2 separate regions of the Homo sapiens genome follow, and region 2 is linked to region 1. Evidence: fine-mapped expression QTL. Tissue or cell type: adrenal gland. Region 1 holds a variant in brackets; the other region holds the start of a gene. All regions are shown on one strand. Distances are from middle to middle.

Evidence for each region. PIP is the estimated chance that this variant, and not a neighbour inherited with it, causes the effect.
Region 2: TSKU-AS1 starts here. The variant in region 1 is the best candidate, but not a certain one, in a credible set for the expression of TSKU-AS1 in adrenal gland (GTEx, PIP 0.69).

The regions. Positions count from the first base shown.
Region 1 is chr11:76,709,717-76,714,094 of GRCh38, reverse strand. It overlaps the pseudogene GUCY2EP. Among named protein-coding and RNA genes, the nearest start is that of LRRC32, 41 kb to the right of the region's middle. RefSeq lists an enhancer at 3,481-3,982. The variant ATGTTCATTATTT/T (reference allele first, on the strand shown) is at 2,171.
Region 2 is chr11:76,780,728-76,785,105 of GRCh38, reverse strand. It overlaps TSKU-AS1 (TSKU antisense RNA 1), which reads left to right and starts at 2,044. Exons shown (of 2, transcript NR_120562.1): 1 at 2,044-2,103; 2 at 2,250-2,525. It overlaps TSKU (tsukushi, small leucine rich proteoglycan), which reads right to left and starts at 1,750. Exons shown (of 2, transcript NM_015516.4): 1 at 1,702-1,750. RefSeq lists a silencer at 1,804-1,893 and enhancers at 1,445-2,089, 2,324-2,513.

The DNA of each region.
Region 1 (4,378 bases):
GGTCTCGCTCTTTCACCCAGGCTGGAGTGCAGTGGCTGAATCTCAGCTCACTACAACCTCCGGCTCCCGGGCTCAAGCGGTCCTCCCACCTCAGCCTCCCAAGTAGCTGGGATTACGGGTGTGCACCACCACACCCAGCTAATTTTTGTATTTTTAGTAGAGACAGGGTTTCACCATGTTGGCCAGGCTGATCTAGAACTCCTGGCTTCAAGTGATCTGCCATTTATCCACCTATTGACTCATTCACCCATTCACCACCCACCCACCAACCACCCATCTACTCACCCATCCATCCATCCACCCATTCATCCACCCACCCATCCACCCGTTCATCCACCCACCCATCCACCCATCCATCTGCCCACCCACTCACCAACCATGCAAACACCCATCCACCAACCACCCATCCACCTACCCAACAACTCACCCACCCACCAACCACCCATCCACCCACTGACCAATCGCCCACCAACCCATCCATCCACCCAGCCACCCACCCATTCACTCATCCATCCATCCACCCACCCATCTACCCACCAGCCCACCAAGTACCCACTCACCCACCCATTCACCCATCATCCATCCACCCTCCCACCCATCAACCACTCACCCACCCATCTACCTGCCTACCCACCAGCTCCCCACCCACCCATCCATCTATTTATCCATCTACCACCCACCACCATCTATCCATGCATACATTCATCCATCCATCCTCCATCCATCCCTCACCACCCACCCATTCATCCATCTGTCTGTTTTTCCATCCATTCATTCAACATTTCTGATGCCTCTCCATGCTTAGCCTTGTGCTTGGTGCTAAGAGCAGGTGGCCTAGATGTGGATTGCACCTGGTCCAGCCCTCGAACGGCCCCTGAGGGCTGCTAAGGTGCCAATTTCCCTGACAGATGCGGGAGCTGCGGTGTGAGAACGTCGCCACCTGCCTGGGCATTTTCGTGATCTCTGGGGAACCTGCTTCGGAAAGAGGTCCTGCACCTAGACTGGACCTTCAAGGCCTCCCTGCTGCTGGATTTGATCTGCATGAGATCCCTCCCTGGGCCTGGCACTGCAGGGAAGTGGGGATGGCAGGGAGACAGGAGATGCTCAGATTTCCCACAGCTGGGCTCTTTCAGCTTTGTCTAATCCAGGGATATCCAAACTGCATGGCCACGGGTACAGGGAGGCAGGAAGGCTTTCTGGGGCTTGTGGGAATTCCGAGAGAACCAGGTTTCCTCTCATTCGTTACAGATCCAATGGACCCCCATTATGTCCATCTCAGGGCATGAGGTATCTGCACCACCACCATTTCCCTCCTGGCTGCCTCAAGTTCCAAAACTGTGTGGTGGACAGATGCTTTGTGCTCAAGGTCACTGACCATGGTTATGCAGAGCCCCTGGACACTTAGCAGGATCCCCAACCCTGGCCAGCCCCAGAAGGTCAGCTCAGGGATAGGCAGGGGGCTGCCAGTAGGTTTGGGGGCCTCTGTTTAACCAGGTGCTTGTAAGGTGCAGGGAGAGGGAGATCTCCAGTCCTCTGGTATTGGTGACCTTGAGTTGATCGCTTCTCCTCTCTGAACAAGCTGTAGGCTCTTTACCTGTGAATTGGGGAGAATACATGCACCCAGCCTGGCTTGGGTGGTCAGCAGGTAATGGTGGCATGGCCCTGCCCTATGATTGCAGAGCTGCTATGGACAGCTCCTGAGCTGCTGCCGGGGCCTGGGCGCCCTGGGCGGCGCACCCTCACAGGGGACATCTTCAGCACTGGCATCATCCTGCAGGAGGTGCTGACTCGGGCCCACTCTACTGCTCCTCGGGACTTCCAGTGGAAGGTAGGTATCCTCCTCCCCTTTCTTGGCTGTCCCTGGCTAGAGTCTCTGCCTAGTGGGAAATTCTATGGCAATCAGGAAATCTGGGCCTGAAGACCACATAGACACACACACCTAAAGTCTGACCATGAGAACTTGACTTAAACCGGGCAGCCTTTTAAGGGGTGGCCTGCCCCTCCACACCTGTGGGTATTTCTAGTTGGGTGGGACGAGAGACTGAGAAAGAGATAAAACACAGAGACAAAGTATAGAGAAACAATAGTGGGCCCAGGGGACCGGCGATCAGCATACCAAGGACCTGCACCGGCACCGGTCTCTGAGTTCCCTCAGTTTTTATTGATTATT[ATGTTCATTATTT/T]CAGCAAAAAGGAATGTAGTAGGAGGGCAGGGTGATAATAAGGAGAAGGTCAGCAACAAACATGTGAGCAATGGAATCTATGTCATAATGAAGTTCAAGGGAAGGTACTATGACTGGACATGCACGTAAGCCAGATTTATGTTTCTCTCCACCCAAACATCTCAGTGGAGTAAAGAATAACAAGGCAGCATTACTGCAAACATGTCTCACCTCCCACCATAGGGCGGTTTTTCTCTCATCTCAGAATTGAACAAAGGTACAATCGGGTTTTATACCAAGACATTCAGTTCCCAGAGGCAGGCAGGAGACAGTGGCCTTCCTCTATCTCAACTGCAAGAGGCTTTCCTCTTACTAATCCACCTCAGCACAGACCCTTTACGGATGTCGGGCTGGGGGACGGTCAGGTCTTTCTCATCCCATGAGGCCATATTTCAGACTATCACATGGGGAGAAACCTTGGACAGTACCCAGCTTTCCAGGGCAGAGGTCCCTGCAGCTTTCCGCAGTGCATTGTGCCCCTGGTTTATTGAGACTAGAGAATGGCGATGACTTTTACCAAGTATACTGCTTGTAAACATTTTGTTAACAAGGCACGTCCTGCACAGGCCTAGATCACTTAAACCTTGATTTCATACAACACATGTTTTTGTGAGCTCCAGGTTGGGTCAAAGTGGTTGGGTCAAAGTGGCTGGGGCAAAGCTACAAATTAACAACATCTCAGCAAAGAAATTATTTAAAGTACAGGTCTTTTTCCAAATGGAGTCTCTTATGTCTTCCCTTTCTACATAGACACAGTAACAGTCTGATTTCTCTTTCTTTTCCCTACAGCCTTCAGCAACTCTGCCAGAATAGCAGCTGACCCACTCCAGGGGCTAAGGACGTTGTGCTCTGGGTGAAAATCCCCGCCCCTGCCTTCCTCCCCAGTGTCACTGCCATGCCTGTAGGTGCTCATGCCCCGCCTGCACCTGCCCTCCATGCCCAGCACAGGCTACACAGAGCTCAGCCCTACTCCAGCTGTGTCACTGTCTTACTCTGTGACCTTACACAAACCGCTTACCCTCTCTGAGCCTCAGTGTTGTCATCTATAAATGGGAATCCAGTAACCAATGTGCCAGATCCCCAGCCCCTTGGCCAACGTGGCCAGGCTGCTCAATACCACGGGGCTTCGTTACCTGCCCAGGCAGGCTCCTTCAGAGCATCTCTGTCCTCACACTTCTGGCTCCCCAGGATAATCACTTGCAGCTTCCCCATCGTCACCTGGCCTGTACACACTTTCTCTCTTCCAGCCCCAGTGCCAAGGCCCAACTCCAAAAATGTTTCCTCCCCTCTGTGCTCTCTGTCTGGCTCCCTGGACCCCAGACTTCTCTTTCTGTCATCCTCCTGCTGCCTCTTCCCAGTCCCAGGGACCTGGCCCTCCACAGACACCTGGCACCTCGGCCCACAGTGCAGAGCAGTGACGGTGCCGAGCTCACCATCAGCTCCCACCCCAGTGGATAATCTTTAATTCACAGGAGACCCAGCCCCACTGCCTTTCTCCACCACAGCCCTGTGAATAATGAGCATTCCAGGCCCAAATTTATGAGGTGGAGGAGTGGGAAGAAGGGGGGCCTTATAAGACCATTTGTTCAACACTCCTCGGCTGCCTCCCCATCATCTGCCTCTGAGGAGGGAAGGACTGGCCAGATGGGATCTGCAAGCCATGCCACCAGTGCAAGGCGCTCCAGGCCTGGCTCCATCCAGCTTTGGGTGCAGGGACCCAGGTCTGGAATGCTCTGGCCACCCTTGAGGAGGCTGTCAGCCTAGGGCCCACTGCTTCCTGCTGTGTGCTTTCCTAGGCCTCAGGGAGTACAGGGCTCACGCCACAGGCTCCAGGGAACACCATCCTAAGCCCAGCTCCACACCAACATGCCTCGTGACTTTGAGTAAATCCCTTTTAGGCTCCAAGCCTCAGTGTTCTCATCTGTAAAATGGGAACCATGATGTCTGCCTTCCAGCGCAGCTGTGAGGATTCAGTGAAATGCTGTAGACAGAGGGCCTGGCATGCAGTGGGTCCTCAATAAATATCTGCAGGGTGATGTGAGGAGCGTGCTAAGGGGGGTCCCAGGCTCTCTCCTGACTCTAACATCTCTTTAGGATCCTGTGGGTGGGGGGTCACTTTGCAGTTCCCAAGGCACTTTCATGTGCATGATTCCATTT
Region 2 (4,378 bases), 71 kb before region 1:
AGCCTTCCTGGGGAGCAAAGTAGTGCCTCGGAATAGGTCAGGTCAGAATGGAGGTGTAGGTTAAACATCAAAGTGTTTCTGGGTTCTGGGATCTGAAGCAGTCAGCCAGAACAGAAGAGGCTATCAATACCTCCCCTTCCAGAAGGGAAACTGAGGCCGGAGAGGGAAAGGAAAATGCCCACAGTTGTTTCTTTCCCAGGTTAGCGGCCTGTGCCCTTCCATCATGTCTGCAGCATCCGACAAAGTTCTAGGTTAAAGACTGGAGTGAGCAGTGGGGAGGAGGGTGTTTACGGTTATCTTTGCGACTTAGGCTCAAAAGCCCAGCAGGCTCCTGCAGCTCTGAGCACCCCCCCCCCCCCACCTCCGGTCAGCCCCAGGCACTGCAAGTCTAGACTTATCCGAAGGGCAGGGCGCACAAAGATGAAAGAAGAATCGAAGGTCTTGAGTCACCTCCTCGCCAGGCCAAGTGTGGGCTGGCGCTGCTCTCCGCCCGGCTCCAGAGGCGCGGGTTATTCCCACCGCACGCCCCGAGCCGCGAGGGAGTTCTCGCCCTGTCCGTGCCAGAGTGACCGCGACTCCGCGAAGCTGAGCAACTTGCCAGCGCCGCACAGGGGCCAGTGGCCGTCCCAGTTGAAACCTGTGTATGTGAGGCTCCCACGGCCCCCAGCCCAGCTCCGGGTCCTGTGAGCCGGCGCCTCGGGCATGCCCAGATCTGGACTGGCAGTCCCCCTCTCCCCTACCGGGTCCGAGGGTTGGCCCCCTACCCCGGGGGCGGGCTGCAAACGGAGAGTGGGTCTCAAAGCGGAGCCTGTCTCCCTACCAAACAGACGCAACTCTGGATCACACTCTTTCCAAGAAGCGCGGGGAGGGCAACGCCAGCCGCCCTGTCCCTTCCTCTCCCCAGCCCAGGGCCGGAGCCTGGGACCCACCGCTCGCCTCTTCCTCCCAGCCGGGGTCTGAGGGGGAGTCCGCACGCTCCGCCCAGCCCCTGCCCAGCCAGTCCCCAGGCGCTGCCGATCCCCCGACCACCAATCCCGTCGCAGCCCCTTGCTGTCCTGGGACCTCAGGAGGGGGAGGGGGAGGGCTGTCTGCGCCCCCGGCCGGGTAGCGGTGGGGAGGACTGGGGCTGTTGCCCGAGGAACCGGGAGAAAAGTTTGGAGCCAAGTCGTGGGCCCGAGGGGACGGCGGGGGAGCGGGGGGGTGGGGCGGCGTTGGGCTCTCGGTGCGCACACCCTCTGCGGACACCCAGCCCAGACACGTCGGCAGGCACCGACCACGTACGCGGAGACACGCGATGCGCCCACCGACGCCCACAGCCAAGCGCAGGCCCGCAAACGTGGACACGGGCGCAAAGCAGCCGCGCAAAGCCACGGACACACAAAGGCACCGACAGCGGCGCGTCCCCGACCGCAAATCCACAAAGACCCACAAACGTGAGATGCACGTGTCCGCACAAAGACCCACACGGCCCCTGGGCGTAGCCTTTGTCTCCCGCAAGACCTCTCCCCTGGGTCGGCGTTCCCCACTCCCGCCCAGCCCTAGGCGTCCGACGAAAGTTGAGGGGCCTCGGCGGGACCCAGCCCCGCCCCTGCGCCCGGCGTCCCCAGCCCGCCCTCCGAAGGGGCCGCGAGGCTAGGATCGGGGACTTGGGATCTTCAACCGCAGCGCGGACTCTCGCCCCGCCCGGGGAACTGCACTCACCTGGAAGCCTGCGCCACAGCCGCCTCGGCACGCTCACCCCGGCGGCCCGGCCGCGGGCCCTCCGGCCAGCGCTTTTCTCCGCGCGGCGCGGCCCGCCCCCCGGTCCCCGCCCGCAGCCAGGCTCCCCCCTGCCGGGCGCCGGGTGGCGGCTCGGGCCGGCCGCGGGGCGGCTCAGGGAGTGTCGCCAAAGTGCCAGCCTCTCTCGGCGCGCGCCCCGCCCGCGGAGCCTGAGCCGAGCCCGGGTTCCACTCTAGGGAGCGTCTCAAAAGTGCGCTGCTCCCGCCCCCTCTAGTTGGCCTCGCTCACAGCTTCCTGCATCCCGGATCCCTGCCCCCTCCCCCTGCGCGCCCCAGCAATCTAAGCAGATGGCCGCACTGTCGGGAACATCTGGAGGTCGCCGGAGTACGTGCCTGTGTATGTGTATGTGTGTGTATGACTGTGTGTGTGGAAAGAGAGAGGGAATTAGTTGCTAGTAAGAAAGAGATTTGGTGGGTGGGTGAGGGCTTCCTCTTTGCTTGTTCACCGCCCCTCCCCATTTTTTTTTAAAGAGTGAAAGAGGTTCAGGGACTACCGGGAGCAAGAAACCAAGAATCTGAAGCAGAGAAAGACTGGCTGAAAGACGAACCCACAGAGAAGAGAGAGCCCGGCTCGGGCAGAAAAGCTGGCAGGAGAGGAGAGAGAAAGTCAACAGATTGAGTTTTTCTTTTAGGAGGAAACCATTGGCTTCTGGTTAGAGTTCTAAGAAGGGAAACTGGCGTGTGAGTAGGCAGCAGTTTCAGTCTATTCCCCCTGCTGTAGCTCTTGGGCTCTCACCCCTCTTTATGTTAAAAAAAAAAAAAAAGGGCAGGAAAGCATCCAAGACACTTTAAAATGAGGGTTTGCAGGAGAAATGACCTGGTGGACGCATTTCCTAGGAGGGGAGAGTCAGGTGTGTGGGTGGCTCCCAGTCTACACACCCCGACAATGCCTACCTTGGGAGAGGGGCAGTTCACAGGTGGGAGAGTTGATAGAGGCTTTGGTCTTGGGCCCTGGACCTCCCAGGAGCTTCTCCTAGACTTTGGAGGGCCTCGGGGTGCAGAAATTGGGCAATGTACCTCCTGCAGTGGCCCAGACTTGTTAACACACCCAGTCTGCTTGCTGCTTCTTTCCTTATTACTTTTTCTTATTCATTAAAAAAAAAAAAAAAAAAAGGAGTTGCTTGGGCCTGTGTGTGCATGCATGCCGGTCTACTTGGGGAAGAAGGAAGACACTAGAGAGGTGGTGAGGTAGGAGTGGAGACCACTGCCCCAGGCCTCAGGCCAGCAAAATCATCTGCTGCCCAGAAAACAAACTGGTCTTGCAGGTCCTTTCTGCACTCAGAGCCATTGTGTGGTCTTGGGGATGCACTTGGGTTGACACCTGTGGACCCTGCCAGTTAGGAATGTGCAGAGAAAAGGCTAGGAGCCTGGTCTCATATGTGTGGAAGCAGGGAGAACTCCCGTCTCTCCTCTCCATTCATTGTCCTCTCCTGATTAGAATCCCAGCTTTCAGAACTAGGAGTCCTTCTGTGATCATCCAGCTCACACTCCTTATCAGTCTTTGGGATGGCACCATGGGCCCTTTGGTATCCAGTGTCTTCCTCACTGTTGGGCTTAAAAGGGCTGCAGGGATTCAACTCCACAACCCCTGGGACCCATAGAGAGGAGTCGGGCCCCTCCCATTTCCCACCCTCCCATTCCCTCCCCTCTCTAAAGGCTCCTGGCCTAGATGGGAGAGAGACCTGCAATCAGCATCGGGTGAGGGCCAAGCTTGGTCAGGATTCAGGTTCCAGCCCTGCCACTTACCAGCTCTGGGTAACTTTAGGCAAGTTACCTAACCTCTCTGAGACTCAGTGTCTGCAACTGTAGAAGAGGCTATTGTGAGGAATAAACAAGGTAATTTAGGTAAAGCATTAGTCTGGCTCACAGGAAGCTCCTTTGTGTGGTTGCTAAATGTCTTCCGTCAGGGACTGGGGTAGAGACTGGAAAGCCCAGCAGGCTTGGGAGGGGAGGGTGCCCGGGAATGACCTCTGGACTCCCTGGCTTGTCTAGCTTATATTCCTCCTGCTTCCTCCCCTCCCATAGGGACATTCTTTTGAAGGAATGGCGCCCCCCTCCCCTTGCCCTAGACTAACGATTTCCATCCTCTCCTCCATGTGGAATTGTTTAGCGAGTCTCAAGTTCAGCATCTGAGAACTGGAGATGAAAATACCCAACTGCCCGGGAACTCAGGGAAGCTAACTCCCACTGCACTGTGTGTGCAGGTTCTAGCCAGCTGGGCTGGAGGCTCCAGGCCTCACATTTAACATAAAAGTAATCAACAACCCTTCACACTGGCTGGTAGCTGGCAGCAGTTTCTGAGCACTTTCACATTCATCATTTCCCTTGACCTCCCCTTAGGGAGAGGTGGCCTTGAGGGGCTTCAGCTGGTGGATCTCCATGAACTTTACCCACCTCCCCTCATCACTGTGCCTCCAGTTGAGAGTCTCTGTGCCTCTAGACTCTCCTCTTCTGTCTGCTGTCCACATTCCAGCAAGAGTGCCCTTTCTAAACTGCAGATCTGCAGAATGGATCATGACACTTGCCTGCTTAAAACCTTTCAATGGCAAAAGCCAAACTGCTTGGTGTGGCATTCAAGGCCTATGTGATATGCCCCCACC